3 separate regions of the Homo sapiens genome follow, and all the other regions are linked to region 1. The links come from fine-mapping of genetic effects on gene expression. A gene starts in region 1. Each other region holds a variant in brackets. All regions are shown on one strand. Distances are from middle to middle. Region 1 holds the start of TRIM52-AS1 (TRIM52 antisense RNA 1). Region 2 has its middle 27 kb from the start of TRIM52-AS1. Region 3 holds the start of SNORD96A (small nucleolar RNA, C/D box 96A).

Evidence for each region.
Region 2: its variant is fine-mapped to the expression of TRIM52-AS1 in vagina (GTEx, PIP above 0.99). The same link has a PIP of 0.9 or more in prostate and substantia nigra.
Region 3: its variant is fine-mapped to the expression of TRIM52-AS1 in whole blood (TOPMed, PIP above 0.99).

Annotation. Positions count from the first base shown.
Region 1 is chr5:181,257,235-181,264,853 of GRCh38, reverse strand. TRIM52-AS1 (TRIM52 antisense RNA 1) reads right to left here and starts at 3,642. Exons shown (of 3, transcript NR_102762.1): 1 at 3,470-3,642. TRIM52 (tripartite motif containing 52) reads left to right here and starts at 3,711. Exons shown (of 2, transcript NM_001346048.2): 1 at 3,711-4,853. The coding sequence starts at 4,041. CTC-338M12.4 (a long non-coding RNA gene) reads right to left here. Exons shown (of 3, transcript NR_109909.1): 3 at 7,268-7,619. RefSeq lists silencers at 3,081-3,330, 3,441-3,590 and enhancers at 3,731-3,780, 3,961-4,010.
Region 2 is chr5:181,284,520-181,292,138 of GRCh38, reverse strand. No RefSeq gene overlaps it. Among named protein-coding and RNA genes, the nearest start is that of TRIM52-AS1, 27 kb to the right of the region's middle. RefSeq lists an enhancer at 7,583-7,619. The variant T/G (reference allele first, on the strand shown) is at 3,243.
Region 3 is chr5:181,234,892-181,242,510 of GRCh38, reverse strand. It overlaps RACK1 (receptor for activated C kinase 1), which reads left to right. Exons shown (of 8, transcript NM_006098.5): 2 at 166-337; 3 at 872-1,019; 4 at 2,929-3,024; 5 at 3,334-3,444; 6 at 4,272-4,412; 7 at 4,792-4,902; 8 at 5,469-5,614. The coding sequence ends at 5,534. It overlaps SNORD96A (small nucleolar RNA, C/D box 96A), which reads left to right and starts at 622; the gene lies at 622-693. It overlaps TRIM41 (tripartite motif containing 41), which reads right to left. Exons shown (of 6, transcript NM_033549.5): 6 at 6,703-7,619. RefSeq lists enhancers at 942-991, 6,305-6,384. The variant A/G (reference allele first, on the strand shown) is at 2,197.

The DNA of each region.
Region 1 (7,619 bases):
ACGGGGTTTCACCGTGTTAGCCAGGATGGTCTCAATCTCCTGACCTCGTGATCTGCCCGCCTCCGTCTCCTAAAGTGCTGGGATTACAGTCATAAGCCACTGTGCCTGGCCAGGATTTTTTTTTTTTAAGATTGCATGTTGTTCTGTTGCCCAGGCTGAGGGCAGTGGCACCATCACTGCTTACTGCAGCCTTGACCTCCTGGGCTCAAATGATCCTCCCAATTCAGCCTCCCAAGTAGCTGGAACTACAGGCGCACACCATCACACGCAGGTAATTTTTAATTTTTTTAATTTATTTTTATTATTTTTGAGATGGAGTCTCACTCTGTTGCCCAGGCTGGAGTGCAGCAGCATGATCTTGGCTCACTGCAACCTCCACCTCCTAGGTTCACGCAATTCTTCCTCAGCCTCGCAAGTAGCTGGGATTACAGGCACCTGCCGCCACGCCTGGCTAATTTTTGTATTTTTAGTAGTGACGGGGTTTCACCATGTTGGCCAGGCTGGTCTCAAACTCCTGACCTCAAGTGATCCACCCGCCTCAGCCTCCAAAATTGCTGGGATTACAGACATGAGCCACCGCACCCAGCCAATTTTCTTTTTTTTTTTTTTTGTGGAGATGGGGTCTCATGACGTTGCCCAGGCTGGTCTCAAACAGCTGGCTCAAACAATCCTCCCATCTTGGCCTCTTAAAGCACTGGGATTACATGAGTGAGGCACCACACCTGGCCAAGAATTTCCTTAAAGCCTATGAAGTGGTGAGCCTTTCATTTCATGTGGAAGGTTCTGGTGGCTGCAGGATGGCCTGAAATGAGAGAGCAAGTGATCCTTTAGAGAAATGGTTTCCTTTTATCCAGTCTGAAGCTGATGGGGGTGAAATCTGGAGTGGCAGAAGTAAGGCTGGAAAGGAGGAGCTAGATCGGAGGAGAAACATCAGCAGGACTTGGCTGAAATGTGTTGGGTTTGTTCATTCGTTTATTTACTCAGCAGATACACAGGGAGTGCTCGCTGTGTGCTTGGCACTGTGGTCAAGGAACTGAGTATGCAACAAAGAAGAGAACACATACAGTCCTTGCTCTGTGCCACTCACAGTTTGGCACAGGTCCGGAGAGGAAGAGGAGGGCTCCAAGGTGTGCTCAAGGTTCCACTGGGACAGTGGTGTCCTCCCCAAACCAATGACCAATTAGTGAGGGGTGCAGTCATGCCCGTGGGCCTTCAACAGCATTTTACTGAAATAAAACAGAAAATATCAGAGTGCTTTGGATGTCATAAGGGAAAGAACACTGCAGAAATTTTCTTTCTGTTATATATGTGCAGGTCTATATTGGATCAGTATGTGCAATGTACTTCTTATTGAAGGGCAGGTAAAGAAAGAAAAAAAACCTTGTATGGGGCTGAGCGTAGTGGCTCACATCTGTAATTCCCGCACTTTGTAAGGCTGAGGCAGGACTGCTTAAACCAGGAGTTCAAGACTAGCCTGGGCAACATAGCAGGACCTCATCTCTACAAAAAAAAAAATAATAAAAATTAGCCAGATGTGGTAATGCACACCTGTAGTCCCAGCTACTTGGGAGGCTGAGGCAGGATGATCACTTGAGCCCAGGGGTCAAGGGTGCAATGAGCCATGATCATACCACTGCATTTGGCCTGGGCAACAGAGCAAGACCCTCTCTCAAAAAAAAAAAAAATCTAAAAGAGAATGGGTAAATCAGGCATAGTGGTGCATGCCTGTAGTCCCAGCTACTCCACAGGCTGAGGCGGGAGGATCACTTGAGTCCAGGAGTTTGAGGTGGTAGGGTGCAATAATCGTGACTATAAATAGCCACGGCACTTTAGCCTGGGCAACATGACGAAACCCTGTCTCTATAAAAAAATAAAGAAATTAGCCTGGAGTGGTGGTGCATGCCTGTGTTCCCAGCTATTCCAGAAGCTGAAGTGGGAGGACTGCTTGAGCCCAGGAGGTGGAGATTGCTGTGGGCCCAGATCGTGCCACTGCAGGGGGCTACAGGAGTCTAAAAGGGAGGGGACACAATTTCCCCAAATCTCCAATGTTGAGGAGTTCTGCCTACACTCCTTGCCCCAGGATGCCCCCAGCACCAAGGCCAAGAGGGTGTCTTGGCCCTCAGCACTGGGGTAGAACATCTGTACACAGAACCAGGCCACAGGAGAAGGCATACACAGAGCCCATGAGCACCAGCCCCTCTGAGCTGCGTCCAGCCCCCATCTCCATCCTCTGTTCTCTGGGACTACAAATCCAGGCCTGACCTGGTTCTATCCCTACCTGCAGAGACAGAAGACAGAAGGAGACAACCCCTGAGAAGCCTTTCCCCAGGGCCTGATTCCCCCTCCCACTGTAAGATCTCTCAGCCCGCACTTTGGGAGGCCGAGGTGGGCGGATCACGAGGTCAGGAAATCGAGACCATCCTGGCTAACAGGGTGAAACCCCGTTTCTACTAAAAATACAAAAAAAAAAAAATTAGCCGGGCGTGGTGGCGGGCGCCTGTAGTCCCAGCTACTCGGGAGGCTGAGGCAGGAGAGTGGCGTGAACCTGGGAGGCGGAGCTTGCAGTGAGCCGAGATCGCGCCACTGCACTGCATCCTGGGCAACAGCCAGACTCCATCTCAAAAAAAAAAAAAAAAAAAAAAACCTCTCAGCCCTGGATCAGGTCCCCTCTCCAGGAAAGGTGACAGAGTGGAGTCTAAATGACACTGCCCTAGGGCCCCGCTGGGGTGGAAAACAGACCCAGACAGCGCCCCCAGCCCTCCCTCCCCAGGGAGGAGTGAAGGGCATAACAGACAGCGGAGGACACCGGGACAGGAAGGAGGGGCCAGCCGCTCTCAAACTAAGTCTAAACCACGGCGGTGAGGAAGTGTGGTCCCAAATCCAGCCCCCTCCCGGCCGAGCTCACAGAGCTCAGGGCTGGAACTCGGAACCCTGGCCCGACGCAGGCGGCAGCACCGAAGGGAACTTGAGCCCCGGCCCCCTCAGGGGACCCACGACCGGGGCGCAGCTTTGCTGGCAGACGCCGCAATACTGCGCAGCCGCGGCCCCGCAAGCAGAAACAGGGCTGGGTCTGAGGCCTACGTGGAGCTGGGGCCCGACGGCTCACGGAAGGCAGCGGGGGGCACTGGGCGCCCCGGATCCGAGCCTCCCGGGCGGCAGGCCCTCCCAGCTGTGCGGCGCCCGGATCCCCACAAAGGCACCCCAAGCGCGGACGGCGGGACGGGCGACAGCACCAGGGTGGTGTCCCAGGCTTCCCCACCGCCGCGGACCAACTCGGCCCCGGCCCGGGCGGGGCTTCCGGAGAGATTTATCCCCCTTCCCTCTAACCTTCCTGGGGCTCCGGCTCAGGCTGGACAACGGCTCGGAGACCCAGTCCCCCTCAAGTGTTGACCCCCCCACCATCTAGAACCAGCCAACCCACCAAACCACCTCTCCCAAGCCGGGCCTCTTCCCGGCGTCCGCCGCTGACCTGATCAGAGCCGCTCTGCCGGCCCGAGGGAGCTGAGAAGGGGCTTGGGAATGGGGTCTTGAGGAGGGGCTGGCCGGAATGTGCAGCACTAGCCCAGCTGGAGCGGGCGGCGCGGGCGCGCCTGTCCCCCAGCCCACCCAACTCCCGGCCCGCGCGGCCCCCGGCACACCATAGAGACGTGGTCCTCCGCCGGCCTAGAGCGTCTCTCCAGAGCGTGTGCAGGAGCGAGACGTCATTTTGCGTCGCCTCGGGCAGGGTAGCCAGCGGCTGCATCTGAGGCGGACGCCGCAGTGTAGGGCACACCCTGAGGGTAGCGAGAGACGTGACAGGACCGAGCAGCTGGGGGCTGCAGCCTGCTCTGTCCCCACCGATCCCAGAGAGAGGCTGTGAGTCTGGATCTGGGCGTTCGCACCCTGAGAGAGGGGGTCAAAGCTCCCCTGCGGCCCCGAGGAAGAAGAGCAAGGTTGAGGACAGCCTCGGGTCACCAGAGTAGTTTGGAGGCAGGCCTGCAGGCGCGTCCCCGCTCCTCAGCTCCAAGCTGACGTATCTACACCTGCCGGCGGGCATTAAGATGGCTGGTTATGCCACTACTCCCAGCCCCATGCAGACCCTTCAGGAGGAAGCGGTGTGTGCCATCTGCTTGGATTACTTCAAGGACCCCGTGTCCATCAGCTGTGGGCACAACTTCTGCCGAGGGTGTGTGACCCAGCTGTGGAGTAAGGAGGACGAGGAGGACCAGAACGAGGAGGAAGATGAATGGGAGGAGGAGGAGGACGAGGAAGCGGTGGGGGCCATGGATGGATGGGACGGCTCCATTCGAGAGGTGTTGTATCGGGGGAATGCTGACGAAGAGTTGTTCCAAGACCAAGATGACGATGAACTCTGGCTCGGTGACAGTGGTATAACTAATTGGGACAACGTAGACTATATGTGGGACGAGGAGGAAGAAGAAGAAGAGGAAGATCAGGACTATTACCTAGGAGGCTTGAGACCTGACCTGAGAATTGATGTCTACCGAGAAGAAGAAATACTGGAAGCATACGATGAGGACGAAGATGAAGAGCTGTATCCTGACATCCACCCGCCTCCTTCCTTGCCCCTTCCAGGGCAGTTCACCTGCCCCCAGTGCCGAAAGAGCTTTACACGTCGCAGCTTTCGTCCCAACTTGCAGCTGGCCAACATGGTCCAGATAATTCGCCAGATGTGCCCCACTCCTTATCGGGGAAACCGGAGTAATGATCAGGGCATGTGCTTTAAACACCAGGAAGCCCTGAAACTCTTCTGTGAGGTGGACAAAGAGGCCATCTGTGTGGTGTGCCGAGAATCCAGGAGCCACAAACAGCACAGCGTGCTGCCTTTGGAGGAGGTGGTGCAGGAGTACCAGGTGAGAGAAATGAGGGAATGTGGGGGGATGAAGGGAGTGGAAAGGTAACTAGGAGAGCTGAGGAATGAGTAGCATTCCTTTCCCACCTCCTCAGGTACTTAGTTGCTAAACTTCTCTTTATTTGATGAGGGAGACACGGTGGAGAGAGATGGTCATATGGGTAAAAAAGGAGACACAAAACCATGAAGATTGGGGCAGATTGGCTTCCCCAGAGGAAGCTGAACAGATAATATGACGGTCACTGGAAGCGGACCACTACTGCTAATACTGGCAGTCTACCTAAGTGTAAGGGACGTGAGTAACAGATACCCAGTACTTCATTTCTCCCTAATGTGAGTCCTTGACCAATTCCCTGGGACAGGTACAGATAGGAATAGAAAGCCACAGTACTTGGAGATAATAGACATTTGGGACCTCAGCACAAGCAGTGTCAAAATAGATGTATTGGTAGACAGAAATGCCAGATGTGAGTCCTAAACTACTGATAGCAATTGGCCACACCCCCCCTCTGAAAGTCTGGGATTGCATCTCTACCTTCAGTGGGGTCCGTTTTCCTTCTAGAGAAAGGCAAAGCATATAAGCATCTTTGATGGATCAGAATGTGCCTCATATCCTGATCACTTTTCTTTCCTGGTATTTTATCATAGTGGAAGGAGTGCGGGATTTAGGATCAGATGACCTGGCTCTGCCACTTACTGTCTAGTCTTGGGCAGGTGTCAACCTCCTTGAGCTTCACTTTTTCCCTAGGATTGTAAGGATTAAAAGAGATCATATATGTTAACCATAAAGCACTAAACAAATGTTTGCTGTTTTATTTGGCTTTCTTGTAACTTGTCTTCCCTTGTTTGGGTGCTGATATGGTTAATGCCTTGCTTTCTAGTCTTGACTTCTAAGCATTAGATAATTGTCTCAATGACAATGAGCATGAGTACCATCTTCCTTACCAAAAGTCTAGGTAGATTTGACTCCTAGCAGTGCCCAAACGAAGGAGAGGTTGTCTTCAGGCCCATAAAGGTTGACCTGGATATGCAGCAGCCGCTGCTCACGTCTTAGTAGTGCTTTACAGTTTATAAAATATATTTCCTCGTGTTCTCCTATAGCAGTGGTTTTCAAATTGTTTTTTGACCAATTAGTGTGTCTTAAAATAAATGGGTCATGCCTAGCATTATCTCAAAATGAAGTAAGAGAAAATATTAGAACACATGGAACATAGTAAGGGTAAGTACTGCTTTATGAAACTTTTAAGTTATATATATATACATGTATATACTTCATCTAAAAATATATTGCTTTCTTTGAGTTGCAGTCAAAACACAAACACAGAGCACTGTCCTACAGGCTTCATGTATTAGATATTATTATCACCCCCCTGCCCCCATTTTATAGCAAATATTGGGAAGTGCACAGTTAAGGCACAAATCTAACCATAAGTCACTGCTACCTCTGTTACATTAACCTGACTTGAAGGACAAATCCTAGTACCATGTTTTCACCCAAGGTGATAACTAAAGTATCCCATGGAAAAAACTTATGTCCTATGCTTCTGGGTTTTAGTATACTGAAGCTGAGGAAAAGAGAGAACCTTCCATTTCTCTTCTAACTTTTTTTTTTGAGACGGTATCTTGCTCTGTTGCCCAGGCAGAAGTGCAATGGCATGATCTCGGCTCACTGCAACCTCCGTTTCCCGGGTTCAAGCGATCCTCCTGCCTCAGCACCCCTAGTAGTTGCGATTACAGGCACATGCCACCATGCCCAGCTAATTTTGCATTTTTAGTAGAGATGGGGTTTCACCATGTTGGCCAGGCTGGTCTTGAACTCCTGACCTCAGGAGATCCACCACCTGGGCCTCCCAAAGTGCTGGGATTACAGGCATGAGCCACTGTGCCCAGCCTTCCTCAGCTAACTTTTATCATCATCCCCTTCCCCCATTTTATAGTAAATATTGTTAAGTGCACAGTTAAGACACAAATCTTTTTTTATTTTTATTTATTTATTTATTTACTTATTTATTTGAGCTGGAGTCTCGCTCTGTCATCAGGCTAGAGTGCAGTGGTGCGATCTCGGCTCACTGCAACCTACGCCTCCCGAGTTCAAGCGATTTTCCTGCCTCAGCCTCCCAAGTAGCTGGGAATACAGGTGCGCACCACCATGCCCAGCTAATTTTTGCATTTTTAGTGTAGACGGGGTTTCACCATGTTGGCCAGGATGGTCTCAATCTCTTGACCTCCTGATCCCCCCGCCTCGGCCTCCCAAAGTGCTGGGATTACAGATGTGAGCCACCATGCCTGGGTGTCTCTTTCATTCTTTAGGCAGTTCATTGTCACTTCCTTCCATTGGTAAACATGTAAATTATAGTCGCATGATTTAGAATTTTACTGACCAAAGTCATAATAATAGTTAACAGTACAAGGAACTATTTTTGTATAATGGTTTATTTAATACAGTATACATTATCTTTCATATACTTTGTTACAATGTTAAAAAAACTTCATTTTTCATAATATAGGAAATAAAGTTGGAAACAACTCTGGTGGGAATACTTCAGATAGAGCAAGAAAGCATTCACAGCAAGGCCTATAATCAGTAAGATGTGTGAAAAGTTGGGTAGCCACAGGAGGTGTTCATTAAGGATATGATTCCATTTATATAGCTATTTCTATTGCATAACCAGGACAGTTTTATTGTTTTGAGGTCAATGTTCTTTTAAAATTTGATTTTCTGTAAGAAGAGGCTTTTTGGCCCAGAAAGCCTTACTTATTTTACATC
Region 2 (7,619 bases), 27 kb before region 1:
GGAGGCGGAGGTTGCAGAGAGCCGAGATCGTGCCACTGCACTCCAGCCTGGGCGACAGAGTGAGGCTCTGTCTCAAAAAAAATAAATAAATAATTCAATGAAATCCCTAAGATTCAGGGCTTTGCAATAAATATGTAAATAAATTTCCAATCTCCATACTGAAAGTTTAAAAGAAATGCTAACTAATAACTAAAGAAATACAACTTTTCCTCAGCTTTGCAGCAATCTAGAAACAAAGTGTGTAGACACTACAAAGCACCTTACAAGGAGAAACGTGTAAGGATGGCATGACTCGCCGGCAGCCCTGGGCTTGTCCACGGTACCCCCATGATGAACAGTAACTCCATTGTGTAAACGCCCATGAACATAAGATTACAGGACTTTTCCAGTTTAGACATACCATATTTTCTTTCAGACAATTCTTCAGTTTGTTTACATAGATCAGCGATACGATGATTCCATTTCTCTGAAAATCAAGCAAAAGTTGCTTCTCAATAATACGTCCCTATGTCAGAGCAGCACTAACGTATAATGACTGATTTCATATATTTTACATTCTAACAGTCCATATCATTTTACTGCTTTCAAGAAAAAATTTCCCCTTTTTGGTGGTTCTTAGAATGGTTTAATGGGAGACTATTAGAGAAGCTGAAAAGCAGGAGGGCAGAGAAGTTCAATCAAATTAAACACAATAACAGGGAGGTCACAATGAGGCGGTCTCCAGGGGTCTTTTAGCAAACTTCCTAAAACATGTCTCAGCTGTGTGAAATAAGACTTTACAGCAGCCGGGTGCAGTGGTGCAGGCCTGTAATCCCAGCACTTTGGCAGCAGAGGCAGGCGGATCACTTTGAGCTCAGGGCAACATAGCCAAAAGCCCCCTCCCTAGCCCCACCCCCACCCCGTCCCTACCAAAAATACAAAACAGCAGGGCATGGTGGCGGGCGCCTGTAGTCCCAGCTACTCAGGAGGCTGAGGCAGGAGAATCACCTGAACCCAGGAGGCAGACATTGCAGTGAGCCAAGATCACGCCACTGCCAGCCTGGATGACAGAGCAAGACTCCACCTCAAAAAAAAACAAAAACAAAAACACAAGGTTAAGAGGGACCCCCGACCTTACAGATACAAGTTTAAGAGGGACCTCTAAGCAAAAAATGCCAACCCTTTTTCTCCCAATCACTGAAACACCAGGAGGGTGTAACAGTTTTGCAGCCTAGCTGTAGCAGGCTGATGCCCCCCAGATGCCCATATCCTAATCCCGGGAACTGGTGAACATGACCTTATATGGCAAAAGGGGCTTTGCAGATATAATGAAGTTAAGGGTCTTTGGCTTTTGGGGTTGATGTACTCACTCGGATCCTTGTAAGAGCAGAGCAGGTGATGGAGAGGGTGGGAGGTGTAGTGACAGAAGCAGGAAACTCCAGTCATTCAAGACGGGCAGCACAAGCTGAGGAGTGCAGGCCACCTCTACGGCCAGGAAACAGATTCTCCCGCAGAGCCTCAGAAGCCACCAACCCTGCTCCCACCTTGACTCAGAAGGACTTACTGTAGAATTCTGGCCTTCAGACTTGTAAGGGAATACATTTTGGTTGTTTTAAGTCACTAAGTGTGTGGTAATTTGTTGCAGCAGCCACAGGAAACTAGTATTGTAGTGAAGCCTCAAAACCCCCCTGAAGGGGCTGGGCTCAGTGGCTCATGCCTGTAATCCCAGCACTTTGGGAGGCCGAGGTGGGTGGATCACTTGAGGTCAGGAGTTCGAGACCAGCCCAGCCAACATGGTGAAATGCCATCTATACAAAAAATACAAAAACTAGCCGGGCATGGTGGCACATGCCTGTAATCTCAGCTACTCAGGAGGCTGAGACAGGAGAATTGTTTGAACCCAGGGGGGCGGAGGTTGCAGTGAACTGAGATTCCACCACTGCACTCCAGCCTGGGTGACAGAGCGACGCTCCATCTCGAAAACAAAACAAAACAAAAAAACCCCACCTGAAGGTTTCCAGTTCTGCCAGCAGTCTCCCACCCAACCCCCAGAAGCAGACATTCCATTGCTGTGGGCCATGGACAGGCAGAAGGAAGCACCTCCTCATGGCAGAGGCCTACCCAGGAGAAACCCAAGGGAAGGCACTGCTGGGCTGGCCCCTCTCTGCCAAGGCCATATTCTTTTTTTTTTTTGAGGCCAGTTTCACTCTGTCTCCCAGACTGGAGTGCAGGGGCACAATCTCGGCTCACTTCGACCTCTGCCTCCCCAGTTCAAGTGATTCTCCTGCCTCAGTCTCCTGAGTAGCTGGGATTACAGGAGTGTAGCATGCCTAGCTAATTTTTGTATTTCTAGTAGAGATGTGGTTTTGCCATGTTGCCCAGGCTGGACTCGAACTCCTTGCCTCAAGTAGTCCACCTGTCTCAGCCCCGCAAAGTGCTGGTATTACAGGAGTGAGCCACTGCACCCAGCATTTGCCAAGACCTTTGATGGCAGGCTTTTTCCAGGTGATCAGTCCTTGTCTGGTCTGGCTCTGCCCCACTCTCCTTCTCACCTAGTTGGAATCCCTAGCTACTTTTCAGTAGAGGAGAGTGTGTACCCCAATCCCAGCTTGGTTCAGATCTGCATTTAACTCATGGAACCTGGCTGCTCCCCAGGTCCTGAAGGAAAAAACGGTCTCTCTGTGCGTATGATAAAGGATGGGCCTGTCCCCAGGACCCTGTGAGAGGGAAGCCCAATGTCCCACCAGGTTGGCAGGGCTGGGGAAGGGAAAGTGTTATGGCAGCCCCAAGAAAAAAAAGAGGCAGCAGAGGGAGCAGGACAGCGCTCACATGGAACTCATGCCACTGCCTGAATGAGGGGAGGGAGGAGTGCACGCCAGTGACGTCAGGGGGCAGAGAGGCGCAGTTCCAGGGCGGCTTTCCCCCTCACTTCCTGCCATGTTACTCTGATCGCCTCCAGGTGAGCCTGCCCACTTTGTGCCCAGGGGCCTGTAGAAAACCACAGCTCCCCATGGTTATGGCCCCAGGAGTGGGGCAGAGCAGGGAGGAGTCCTGGACAGAGGAGAGGCAGGGGCAGGAGGGAGTGGGCCTCAAACTCCAGGAGGGGGCCCTTCTCATGGGTCCTGCTTTCTGGCTTCTCCTTCCTTACACCTGGGCTGATCACTTGGGGAAGAACTGAGACAAAGTTTCTCACCCTCAGGCCCAAAGGGTTTAATTACTGGGCCCTTAGGGAGGTGTGAGCCCCCTGAAAGGATGCAAGGTTT[T/G]GTTTTGTTTTGTTTTTTGAGACAGAGTTTCGCTCCTGTCGCCCAGGCTGGAGTGCAGTGGCGTGATCTCACCACACTACAACCTGCGCCTCCCAGGTTCAAGTGATTCTCCTGCCTCAGCCTCCTGAGTAGCCGGGATTACAGGTGCCTGCCACCAGGCCCAGCTAACTTTTTGTATTTTTAGTAGAGATGGGGTTTCACCATACTGGCCAGGCTGATCTCAAACTTCTGACCTCGTGATCCACCCCACCTCAGCCTCCCCAAGTGCTGGGATTACAGGTGTGAGCCACCATGCCCGGCCCCAAATTATCTTTTAATTTTAAAGACATACATATTGTTTAAACAAGTCAATAAATAACTATATTGAATAACAAAGTGAAGCCTTCCCTTTACCACAATCAACCTACTGTTCTCTCTCTATCTGAGGCTCTCTTCCTACGTTCCACTGTCCCAGACTTCTGCAAAGTATTTATGTATCTATTTAGGTATCTGTCCATCTTTCCATTCCTTTCTCAATTATATATTCTGGTGGTTTCGCTCTCCACGTGGCAACTCTACATCCAGGATCAAAACGGCATCAAAGGAAGCTTGGAACAGTGACAACCCCTACCTGAGATGTCTCATTCCAGGGGCAAGGCTGCCTGGTGCCTGATACCCATGAGATTAGGAAAAGCAGGTGGGGTCCTGTCCACCCCTTCTATTCCCGAACGCTTGGCAGAGTTCCTGTGGCTAACATGCCAGTTGTATCAACTTCTGCGCAGTCTCATGTGAAGTGCCACACTACGTTCTCAGCCTGGGAGGTTTCAGGGCTCAGCTGGCTCAGATCCCATGTGTGGGGAGCATTAAGAAAAATATGTCACCTGTATAAGACTAGTGGCAAAAATCTGACTCAGTGCTACTTCTCTGTTTGTCCTTTACTTAAAAGGTGAACCATAATTAAAATGATCCAGAAAAGAGAACCAAGCAGGAAACTGAGTTGCTTGGGGAAAGGACCATGCTGCATTGATTTTTACATACCCAATGCCAGCAGTGCATCAGGTACACAACAGGTTCTCAATAAATTGTTAAATGGGTAAGTTGATAGAATAAAAAACAAGGTCTCTTCCCAGTGCTGCATGCAGAAAAGCTCAGTTAGAGTGAATTCTTATTTGCAGAGATGAGAGATTTTTAGTCTTCTGATGGCTGTTTCCTCCTCTCTGTTTTCTTTGCCACAGTTTAGGGGCAAAGAAAAGTTTCTCTCTCTCTGAAATGGTAGGAGAAACCCTTGGGGCTTAGCTAACAAATCAGGCTCTCTCTTTCACATGTTGTGAGAATAGAAATATTTAACCATCAGCACAGACAATGTCATTTGCATAAGGGAGTGACTTCCTGGCTGAGAGATGGTCAGAATAACATACAGCCTAGGAGTGAAGGCAGTGAAGTTTGCGAGCCTAGGGCTCTGGTTCTGGTGTCTGCTTCATGGCTGTGTGATCTTGGGCAAGTTTCCTAAATGCTCTGCTTCTAAGTTTTGTCATCCATAAAATGATAACAACAGTACCTGCCTCAAATAGTGTGTGGAAGAGGCTTAAACAAGCTAATGTAAGTCAAATCTTGAGCACAATCCCTGGTGTAGCTATACATGTTTGTGTATATATCAGAAGCTCGAAATTATACCATTAGTATTAAGAACATACTCTGGACCCTCATTATGCTGCTATTCTCAATATCCCAACACTTGATTTCTATTGACAACTCCTAGGCTCAACTGTTCCGCCCACCTCAGCCTCCCAAGTAGCTGGGAATACAGCCACCACACCTGGCTAATTTTTAATTTTTTTTGGTAGAGACAGGGTCTTGCTATGTTGCCCAGGCTGGTCTCAAACTCCTGGCCTCAAGAAATCCTCCCACCTGGGCCTCCCCAAGTGCTAGGATTTACAGGCATGAGCCACCATGCCCAGCTCCCTTCCTCCCCTTTGCTCTCCTAACTCCATCTCAGCATCCGCCCCTGAGGACAAATGCAACAGGGCAATCAGTACATCCATGAACTTCCCATCAGTCCTGTGGTGGACTAACCCAGGGACAATGGTCACTGTCCCCTCTGGTGCATTCTTTGTCCCCATCAGCCTAGTAAGCTCCGGGGCTGGCAGCTGGCACAGAGTAGGAGGCTGCACTCCCTGACCTTTCTATGCTACACACAGTCCTGTGTCCATCCTGTCCTCAGACCTGCCAGGGCCATGACCAACCTGCCAAGAGTGTGGGAATTGGTATGTGACCCAGCTCTAGGAGGAGGTGGAGCAAGCAAATATAGGGGAAGCTGCTCCCCCAGTAGGTTTAGAGGGAGAGTGGGGTGGGGGCGCAGCAGGGCCAGGCGGGTTAGGGTGTGTGGGTGACATTGTGCAGGTGAGGGTGTGCGGGTGGGGGTGTGTGGGTGGGGGTGTGTGGGTGAGGGTATGAGTGCCTGTCTGGCTCTCCTGGGTGGGGCTGGATGAATGTTTGGGCACAGGCAGCGGCTGTCACATGGCCTGGCTGTGGGTTTGAGACAGAAGCCAGGCAGGTGGGCTGTGTCAGGCACAGCTACAAACTGTGCCAAGGAAGCGGACCAGAGCAGGGGCCCAGGGAAACCTCTGCCTTAGCAGAAGATACTGGGGAGACAGGATCAATCGGGGAGGTCTTCCAAGGCACATGGTGCTTCATGGAGCCAGGGCCCAGGACAGGGAGGGCTGTAACCCTGGCTTGCCTGATTGGCTGAGCACAGACAGAAGAGGGTGTGGGCAGCCCGCCAGGTGGATGCCTAAGTGAGGAAGGAATGGGTGGCCAGGTGACTGAGACCGCCAAGACCAGGACCCCACTGTCAGGCCTGTGGCTTCCCAACGCCTGTGGGAAGTGTTCCCCTTTGGACACTGAGGCCATCGGCTTCAGCTTCACACCCTTTTCCAGACAAAGACCCTCAGGTAACCTCAAAAGTCACTTCTGGCCTTCCCCAGAGGGGAAAGGAGAGGGGTGCCTGTGGGCAGGTGACCCTCAGTGCTGGTGGAGGGCACAGCAGAGAGACTGCCTGCATATGGGAGGCCCCCAGCAGACCTTGCCCAGACATCAACCCTCGTTTGAGGCAAACTGTAAAATTATCACAATTTAGGCCAGGTGCAGTGGCCTATGCCTGTAATCCCAGCACTTTGGAAAGCCATGGCAGAAGGACTGTCTGAGCCTGCAGTGAGCTATGACTACACCCCTGCACTTCAACCTGGTCAACAGAGGAAGACACTGTATCTAAAATAAATAGGCTTGGCGTGGTGGCTCACACCTGTAACCCCAACACTTTGGGAGGCCGAGGCAGGTGGATCACCTGAGGTAAGTAGTTCGAGACCAGCATGACCAATATGGTGAAACCTCATCTCTACTAAAGACACAAAAATTAGCCGGTCGTGGTGGACCGTGCCTGTAATCCCAGCTACTCAGGAGGCTGAGGCAGGAGAAATAGTTTGAACCCAGGAGGCAGAGGTTGCAGTAAGCCAAGGTCGCGCCACTGCACTCCAGCCTGGGCGACAGAGTGAGACTCCACCTCAAGAAAATAAATAAGATGGGAAAGCTATGTTCTTAACATTTTTCAAATGATAATTCATACTAAAGAATGTTACCAATAACATTATAACTTATACCAATAACTTATAAAATAACATTATAACTTATACCAATAACTTATAAAATGCACAAAGCATTTTATAAGTTTTAGACTATTAATAAAAAGACACGAAAACTGAGGTATTTGTAATCATGCTTAATATTGGAAGTTCCTATACCTGCAATGTAGCAACTAATTATACAAAAATTTAATAAATGACAAAATAAAATTTTGCAAACAGATTTGTAATAACCAGAAAGAAATCTGTATTGGCAATTAATGTAACATAATTAAAAATAATTTGTTATGGTCATCTGCTAAATGCTAATTAATGTAAAATGTTAAAAGATTATTTCAATTATGACATCCTAATTTTTAATGGCTTGAAATATTATAAATATAAAAAACAGGTTTCTAAATTTAAAAGAAGAATGACTAAATTTTTCAGAAATATTTCATATTTCTTGTCATACAATATAAGAACACCATTCCATGTTTCCTTTTAGATTAGGAACCTTCCCTTATCTCACTGAAAGGAGAATGCTGGAAGGTGCTAGTAAGATGACAGTCTGTCTAAGGACTCCAGAACTGAAGGAATTGTTTTGTGGCAATGCATGTCACTTCCCTAACTCAACTGGAAAAGGAGACAAAAACCTAGTGTTTTCAACCCTCAAGCTAGCAAGAAAACACAGCCCAGGTAAGATCATCTCTTCTCCAATGGAGCTGGAGTCTACTCAACAAGAGGCGACCATTTAGAATAGAATTGTTCAGAAGTTTGC
Region 3 (7,619 bases), 22 kb after region 1:
ACTCAGTCCTGGTCTGTAACTGCTCTTGTCTGTTGTTTCCATCCCTCCTTAAGCGTCCTTAGTTGTTGTTAACCCACTCATGACCTTGACACTTAGTGAATTATCCAGTGTGTTAAACGGGCTGCGGGTTCCTCACTGATTTTTCTTCTGTTTTACCTCCTTTAGATAAGACCATCATCATGTGGAAACTGACCAGGGATGAGACCAACTATGGAATTCCACAGCGTGCTCTGCGGGGTCACTCCCACTTTGTTAGTGATGTGGTTATCTCCTCAGATGGCCAGTTTGCCCTCTCAGGCTCCTGGGATGGAACCCTGCGCCTCTGGGATCTCACAACGCAAGTAGCTGCTCACTTAGCTCTGGGGCCTTGGGAAGAATCTGGGCAGAAGTGAGGTGGATGCAATTGGCTGGTTTCCCAGGGGAGATCCAGTCCATTTGGGAACTGGAAAGCAGAGCACACCTACAGAAGATGTTTGGCCTCCCTCACTTTAAATAAGTTACTCAGCATTGCTGAGGAGTGTGGCTGAACATTTTTGCCAGGTGCAAAAGTTCTGAGTGGGCAGCAGTTTGAACATGTTTTACCTTGAAAGCTCAGGTAATTGGCAGGTGGAATTAGAGGGTCCTGGTGATGACAGATGGCATTGTCAGCCAATCCCCAAGTGGGAGTGAGGACATGTCCTGCAATTCTGAAGGGATTCTCTGTCACTTGGCTCTTCTCTTTCATATACTCAGTCACTTGACTCTGTGATCAGAGCCAAATCCAGGGTTGTATGAGTGATGCAATGAGACAGAGACAAAGCCCAGGAAATGAGTCTGACCGTTGAATGAGAGTGTTTGCTAAGTCTGAGAATGACAAACTCCTCCCTCTCAGGGGCACCACCACGAGGCGATTTGTGGGCCATACCAAGGATGTGCTGAGTGTGGCCTTCTCCTCTGACAACCGGCAGATTGTCTCTGGATCTCGAGATAAAACCATCAAGCTATGGAATACCCTGGGTGTGTGCAAATACACTGTCCAGGTAAAGTGAGCCATCTCCAAGGATCTCTTCCACCCTCTTAAACTTTGCTTTTTTTTTTTTTTTTTGGCGACAGTCTCACTCTTGCCCAAGCTGGAGTGCAGTGGCGCAGTCTCGGCTCACTGCAACCTCTGCCTCCCGGGCTCAAGGGATTCTGGTGCCTCAGTCTCCCGAGTAGCTGGTACTACAGGTGCGCAGCCACCACGCCTAGCTAATTTTTTGTGTTTTAGTAGAGACAGGGTTTCACCATGTTGCCCAGGGTGGTCTCAAACTCCTGGGCTCAGGCGATTTGCCTGCCTCGCCCTCCCAAAGTGTTGGGATTACAGGCGTGAGCCCCCACCTGCCTATCTTTGCCTTTTTTTTTTTTTTTCTCGGAGACAGTTTCGCTTGTTCCCCAGGCTGAAGTACAATGGCGTGATCTCGGCTGACCACAACCTCCGCCTCCTGGGTTCAAGCAGTTCTCCTGCCTCAGCCTCCCAAGTAGCTGGGATTAGAGGCATGCGCCACCATGCCCGGTTTTGTATTTTTAGTAGAGACAGGGTTTCTCCATGTTGGTCAGGCTGGTCTTGAACTCCCAACCTCAGGTGATCTGCCCGCCTCAGCCTCCCAAAGTGCTGGGATTATAAGCGTGAGCCACCGTCCCCCGCTTTCTTTGCCTTTTTAAAGTCTTGTCTGGGCTGGGCTCACGCCTGTAATCCTAGCTCTCTGGTAGGCCAAGGTGGGAGGACTGCTTGAGGACAGGAGAGCAGCCTGGCCAACATAGTGAGACCCCATCTATTTAAACAAAATTTTATTTATTTTTTTTCTTTTTTGAGATGGATTCTGGGCTAGATCGCAGATTTGGGATCGCAGATTGGGGGCTGGATCGGGGATTTGGGGATGGGTGGGGGGCGGTGAAAAGGTGAAAGGGAGTTGCCGCAGCTCAGAAGCCGATGGTTGGGTGTCTGAGAAGATTACAGGCGTGTGCCATCATGCCCAGCTAATTTTTGTATTTTTAGTAGAGATGGGGTTTCACCATGTTGGCCAGGCTGGTCTCAAACTCCTGACCTCAGGTGATCCGCCCGCCTCAGCCTCCCAAACTGCTGTGATAACAGGCGTGAGTCACCGTGCCCGGCCTTATCACTACTATTTTGTTTTGTTTTGAGACAGTCTCATTCTGTCGCCCAGGCTGGAGTGCAGT[A/G]GTGCGATCTCGGCTCACTGCAAGCTCTGCTTCCCGGGTTCACGCCATTCTCCTGCCTCAGCCTCCCGAGTCGCTGGGACTACAGGCGCCTGCCATCAGGTCTGGCTAATTTTTTGTATTTTTAGTAGAGACAGGGTTTCACCATGTTAGCCAAGATGGTCTTGATCTCCTGACCTCATGATCCATCCACCTTGGCTTCCTAAAGTGCTGGGATTACAGGCGTGAGCCACCACACCAGGCCCTATTATTATTATTATATTTTTTTTGGAGATGAAGTTTCACTTGTTCGTTGCCCAGGCTGGAGTGCAATGGCACAATCTTGGCTCATTGCACCCTTCGCTTCCTGGGTTTAAGCAGTGTTCCTGCCTGAGCCTCCCCAGTAGCTGGGATTACAGGCACCCGCCGCCACACCTGGTTAATTTTTGTATTTTTGGTAGAGACAGGGTTTCACCATTTTGGCCAGGCTGGTCTCAAACTCCTGACCTCAGGTGATCCACTTACCTCGCCCTCCCTGGGATTAGAGGCGTGAGCTTCTGCGTCCAGCCACCATCTCTAAATTTTTAAAAAATTTTCTTGTCTGGAATCTAAAGGGATTCTATTGAGCTTAAAGGTTTGGGTTCTTGGTTTTTGAAAGGTGCTGCCAGCCATCATCCTACTGAGGGGTAGGGCTGGGAGGTCTAGCATTTCATGGGATAGGACTGTTTGCCCTAATTTCCTTTCCATCTTCTGTAGGATGAGAGCCACTCAGAGTGGGTGTCTTGTGTCCGCTTCTCGCCCAACAGCAGCAACCCTATCATCGTCTCCTGTGGCTGGGACAAGCTGGTCAAGGTGAGCGTCAAGCCAAGGCAGGGGCTTTACCAGTCAGGGTGTGCTCCCAGGTGGTCATACACTCCAAGTCCTGTGGAAAGCTTTGCAGATGCCCTCAGTTGACTCTTTCTCTTGTCACATGGTCTGATGTCCCTTGTAAGTCAGCACACTGCATTGGATATGTGTTATAATCTAACGTGAAGTGGCCAGGACATGTTACTGAATGAGAAATGGCTACCGTATCCAGAAGTGCCAAGCCCTTTTTTGTTGGGCCTGACCCTAGCTCATCAAGAGCTAGGATGTTCACCTGTCAACCGCACGTCTATGCAGGTATGGAACCTGGCTAACTGCAAGCTGAAGACCAACCACATTGGCCACACAGGCTATCTGAACACGGTGACTGTCTCTCCAGATGGATCCCTCTGTGCTTCTGGAGGCAAGGTATTTGGGGACAAGGCGTCTCCTACTCAGTGGAAGACAGCGTCATGGAAGGAGCACTTAGCCAGCGTCTCTAACGTAAAATGGCAAACATTAGCCAAGATGGTTTTAGGAGGATAATGAGATAATGGCAATCTGAGAATATGTTTCCAAAGATTACTTTCAGCAAATGACAGTTAAGGCATACTATCTGGAAGAAAAAGATGATTTTCTATAAGCCTGTGGGTTTTTTTTGTTGTTTTTTTGTTTGTTTGTTTTTTGTTTTTTTTTTGAGACGGAGTCTCACTCGGCTGCCAAGGCTGGAGTGCAGTGGCGCGATCTCGGCTCACTGCAACCATCTCCCGGGTTCAAGCAATTCTCCCATCTCAGCCTCCCGAGTAGCTAGGATTACAGGCACCCGCCATCACTCCTGGGTAATTTTTGTATGTTAGTAGAGAGGATTTTACCATGTTGGCCAGGCTGGTCTTGAACTCCTGACCTCAGGTGATCCGCCCACCTCGGCTTCCCAAAGTGCTGGGATTACAGGCATGAGCCACCGCACCCAGCCTAAAGTTGGTTTCTTGAAGCAGTTGATGAGATTGGGATCCTGGTTTTCAGAAATGATTGGAGTGATTTATGTAAGTTGGGAGGGGTTTTTTGATGGGGTTGGTAAGGTCTTACGTTAAAGGAAAGGTATACAGAGATAAATATTGGTACTTGAGTCATTAGCTTTCAAAGAAGCCTGGGGTAATGGAGGAAAGGTAAGAATTGATTCTGACAGAATCTTGAGATGGGCAGAATTAACATCTGGAAGAGGTCACAGTGTCCTGATTTACCTTACCTGTGTCCAGGATGGCCAGGCCATGTTATGGGATCTCAACGAAGGCAAACACCTTTACACGCTAGATGGTGGGGACATCATCAACGCCCTGTGCTTCAGCCCTAACCGCTACTGGCTGTGTGCTGCCACAGGCCCCAGCATCAAGATCTGGGTGAGTGTGGGTTACAATTGACTGGGTACCTGGCTGCACTCTGAGCCCTGGCAATGTTTTGGTTATTATATATGCCATCTGACTCCCACCTGGGAGCTAAGCTTTCTCAGCCTCCACGTAATGACATTTTGGTCTGAGTAACTCTGTTGTGGTGTGCAGTCCTGTACATTCCAGGATGTTTAGCAGCATTTCCAGCTTCTACTAGATGTCAGTAGCAAACCATCCTTCCACTAGTGGCAACTGAAAATGCATGTAGGCATTGATACATGGACCCCAGGGAGCAAAATCATCCCTTTTTAACTTGAGAATCTTGAGGGGCTTTTAAGAGGAGACTCTCTTGATTGGTAAGTCTTAAGGTTGCTTTTGCCCTGTTCCCCAGGATTTAGAGGGAAAGATCATTGTAGATGAACTGAAGCAAGAAGTTATCAGTACCAGCAGCAAGGCAGAACCACCCCAGTGCACCTCCCTGGCCTGGTCTGCTGATGGCCAGGTAAGTGGGTCTGTCCTCTCAGGTGATTCTGCTTCCAGTTAATTTTCTCCCTCTCATTCTGTTAGTATATCTAGTCTGTCAGACACAAGAGCAGTGTCCTTGGCATAAAGTGAAATGACAAGCCAGGTTGATGAGGATGCCCTCGTTTGCCATGCCAGTGAATGTGTTTCTGCATCAGAGGGAAGACTGATGTGGAACGCAGTGGCTGTCAGCCTTCAATTAATACCTTAATTAATCTGACCAGTTTTCAAATGTCTGGAGCCTTATCACCAGCTGTTTCTTCCTCAAGGAATACATAACCACCACTTACAAGCTGGCTGTTGAAATGAGAGCGGTTTCTTACAGTCTACCCGGCGTTGTGGCACATGCCTACTGGAGGCTGAGGTGGGAGGATCTCTTGAACTGCAGGGGCTTAAGGCTGTAGTGAGCCAGGATCGCACCCCTGCACTCCAGCCTAGACAATGGAGCAAGGTGGACGGATCTCAAAAAAAGCCACTTGGGCTGAATCTAGTGAGACTGCAGAATTTATGCCAGCCTGACCTGTCACTGTCATTTCTTCCCTGCAGACTCTGTTTGCTGGCTACACGGACAACCTGGTGCGAGTGTGGCAGGTGACCATTGGCACACGCTAGAAGTTTATGGCAGAGCTTTACAAATAAAAAAAAAACTGGCTTTTCTGACTTTTAGGTTTTTTTTTCTTATATGCAAAAAAGCTCCATTCTATCTACATTGCTTACACATTAAGTTTGCACTAGCGAACTGGATGCAAGGTATGGACTAAGTAAACAAGGCTTTGAAGGGGAGCTGTCCGTCTAAGTTCTCAGGATTGGGGTAGCATCAGGTGGGATGTTTGTGAGAAGTCACATAGCAGTTTCCCTGAACTTAAACCCCATCAGCGTCCTACATACCACGTGCAGATCATCAGGGCCTACCTTCAACCTGGGGAACCTTCTTGAGGGAAAGAACTGATTTCAAAGTGGTTGCAGTCAATTTTTAGAAAAAGCAGACTCCGCAGGTCCAACCCCTGACACGTAAGAGTGGAAGATGAATCCTCATTCCTCTAAAGATTTGAACATAATTCAGAAAACTTAAGCTTCATGTTAGCAGTCTCTGTCAACATGGTCTTTGAGGAAAGTCAAGGGTTTTTAATTCTTTAAGCAAGGCAGTTCTCACCAGAAGAACTTAATTCAAAACTAATTTATTCCTCAGGTCAAAAGTTTTGGGGTGGTTGGTCTGGAAGCATTCATAAATAGAACCATAAAGTTGGCCCTACTAAACATTTCAACTGCTACTATAACCTGGCCCTCAATCCCCCTACACACAAACACAGTTTATTCATGAGGATAGATGCCTTGTGAAAGGCCAGAAGTGAGCCATTAAACTACAATTACAGTTTCCAATAGAAACCTCAGTACAGGGATGGAATGGTTCAACATGCGGCTGAGACCCCACTACCCTTGCAATTTTCTGTGCTAAGCAACTACAGCATATTGAAGGCCCACATGCACCCTCCACTTCCTACTCCCCTCAATTTATAATGGTGATGAGGCATTTCTGGCTTCAGTTTCAACTACGTGTGGCAAACATCTCTAAGTAGACTGAACAGTTAGTAAGTTAGGTTAAGATATTAAAATGGGGAGCAGGGTCCACATCCCTGTTGAAATAGGAGCCTGCCTGGTAACAGGTGCAAAGCATGCCTTTAACTGCAACTAACCAGTTCAGTTGTGTGGCTTCTCACTGCAGGGGCGGCAAAGGAAGAAATCCTGAGTTACACCCTCACCTGAAGGAACAGACCTCACAAGAGAAGCAAATAAACATTTTATTTCCACAGCACGCCTTCCCTTTTCCCAAAGAACATGAGTTCACCTCAGCCATCAAAGCAGAGGGCGAAAGCTGCAAGTGACAAGGCAAGAGGCTCCTAGAAAAATAGATTATACCCAAGGCTCTCCTCCTGGGGACCCAAACCCGTCCCCAGGCTCCCCCTCAGAGCTTGCCAAATGGAGTGAAAGGCATGGAAAGGGGCTGGGAGAAAAGCCAGCTCCACTGAACAAAGGGGAGAGGAGCCTGGCAGTGAGCAGACCTGGGAGGGGTGTGGGGTGGGATGAGCTTTGCTCCTTGGTTGAGTGCTGGAAAAGGGAAGGGGGAAGAAATAATTTATGTTGATGTAATTAATGTAATGATGATGTAATGGTGCGTGGTTTCAATCATGGCGACCATTCCAGATCTCTCTCAAGTGAAGCTAAATTCTGGCCGGTCTATGGAGGTAGAAATTGAGGACGGAAGGAAAGTTTAGAATCCCTCCTCCCCAGGAGAATAGACATTTATTACCCAGCTCTACCCTTTGGCCCAGCCTGCCTCCCCAAATGGCTTCCAAATCCCTCAGCTAAAATCTGCATCAGAAAATGGAATTGGAATGGGGATGTTGCCTTGCCCAAACCCTCCAGCCTCAGAACTGATAAAGAGGTTGAAGAGCAGGGGTGGGGAAAAGGAAGTTAAGGAATGAAATTACAATTTCCCCTCATCCCCTACTCAAATTCCAGTCCCAGGGCTGGGCTAGGCAGACTGGGAGAGAAGACCAGGCAGCTGTTCTCATTATCAGGGACCCATGCAGACCTGTTGGACAGACATAGTAGGTGAGAGAAGGCTGAGCTGGAGGCCAGGAGGGTTCTTTAGGCTCCTAGAGGGAGAAGCAGGGGCCTGGGGTCAAGGGGGAGTGG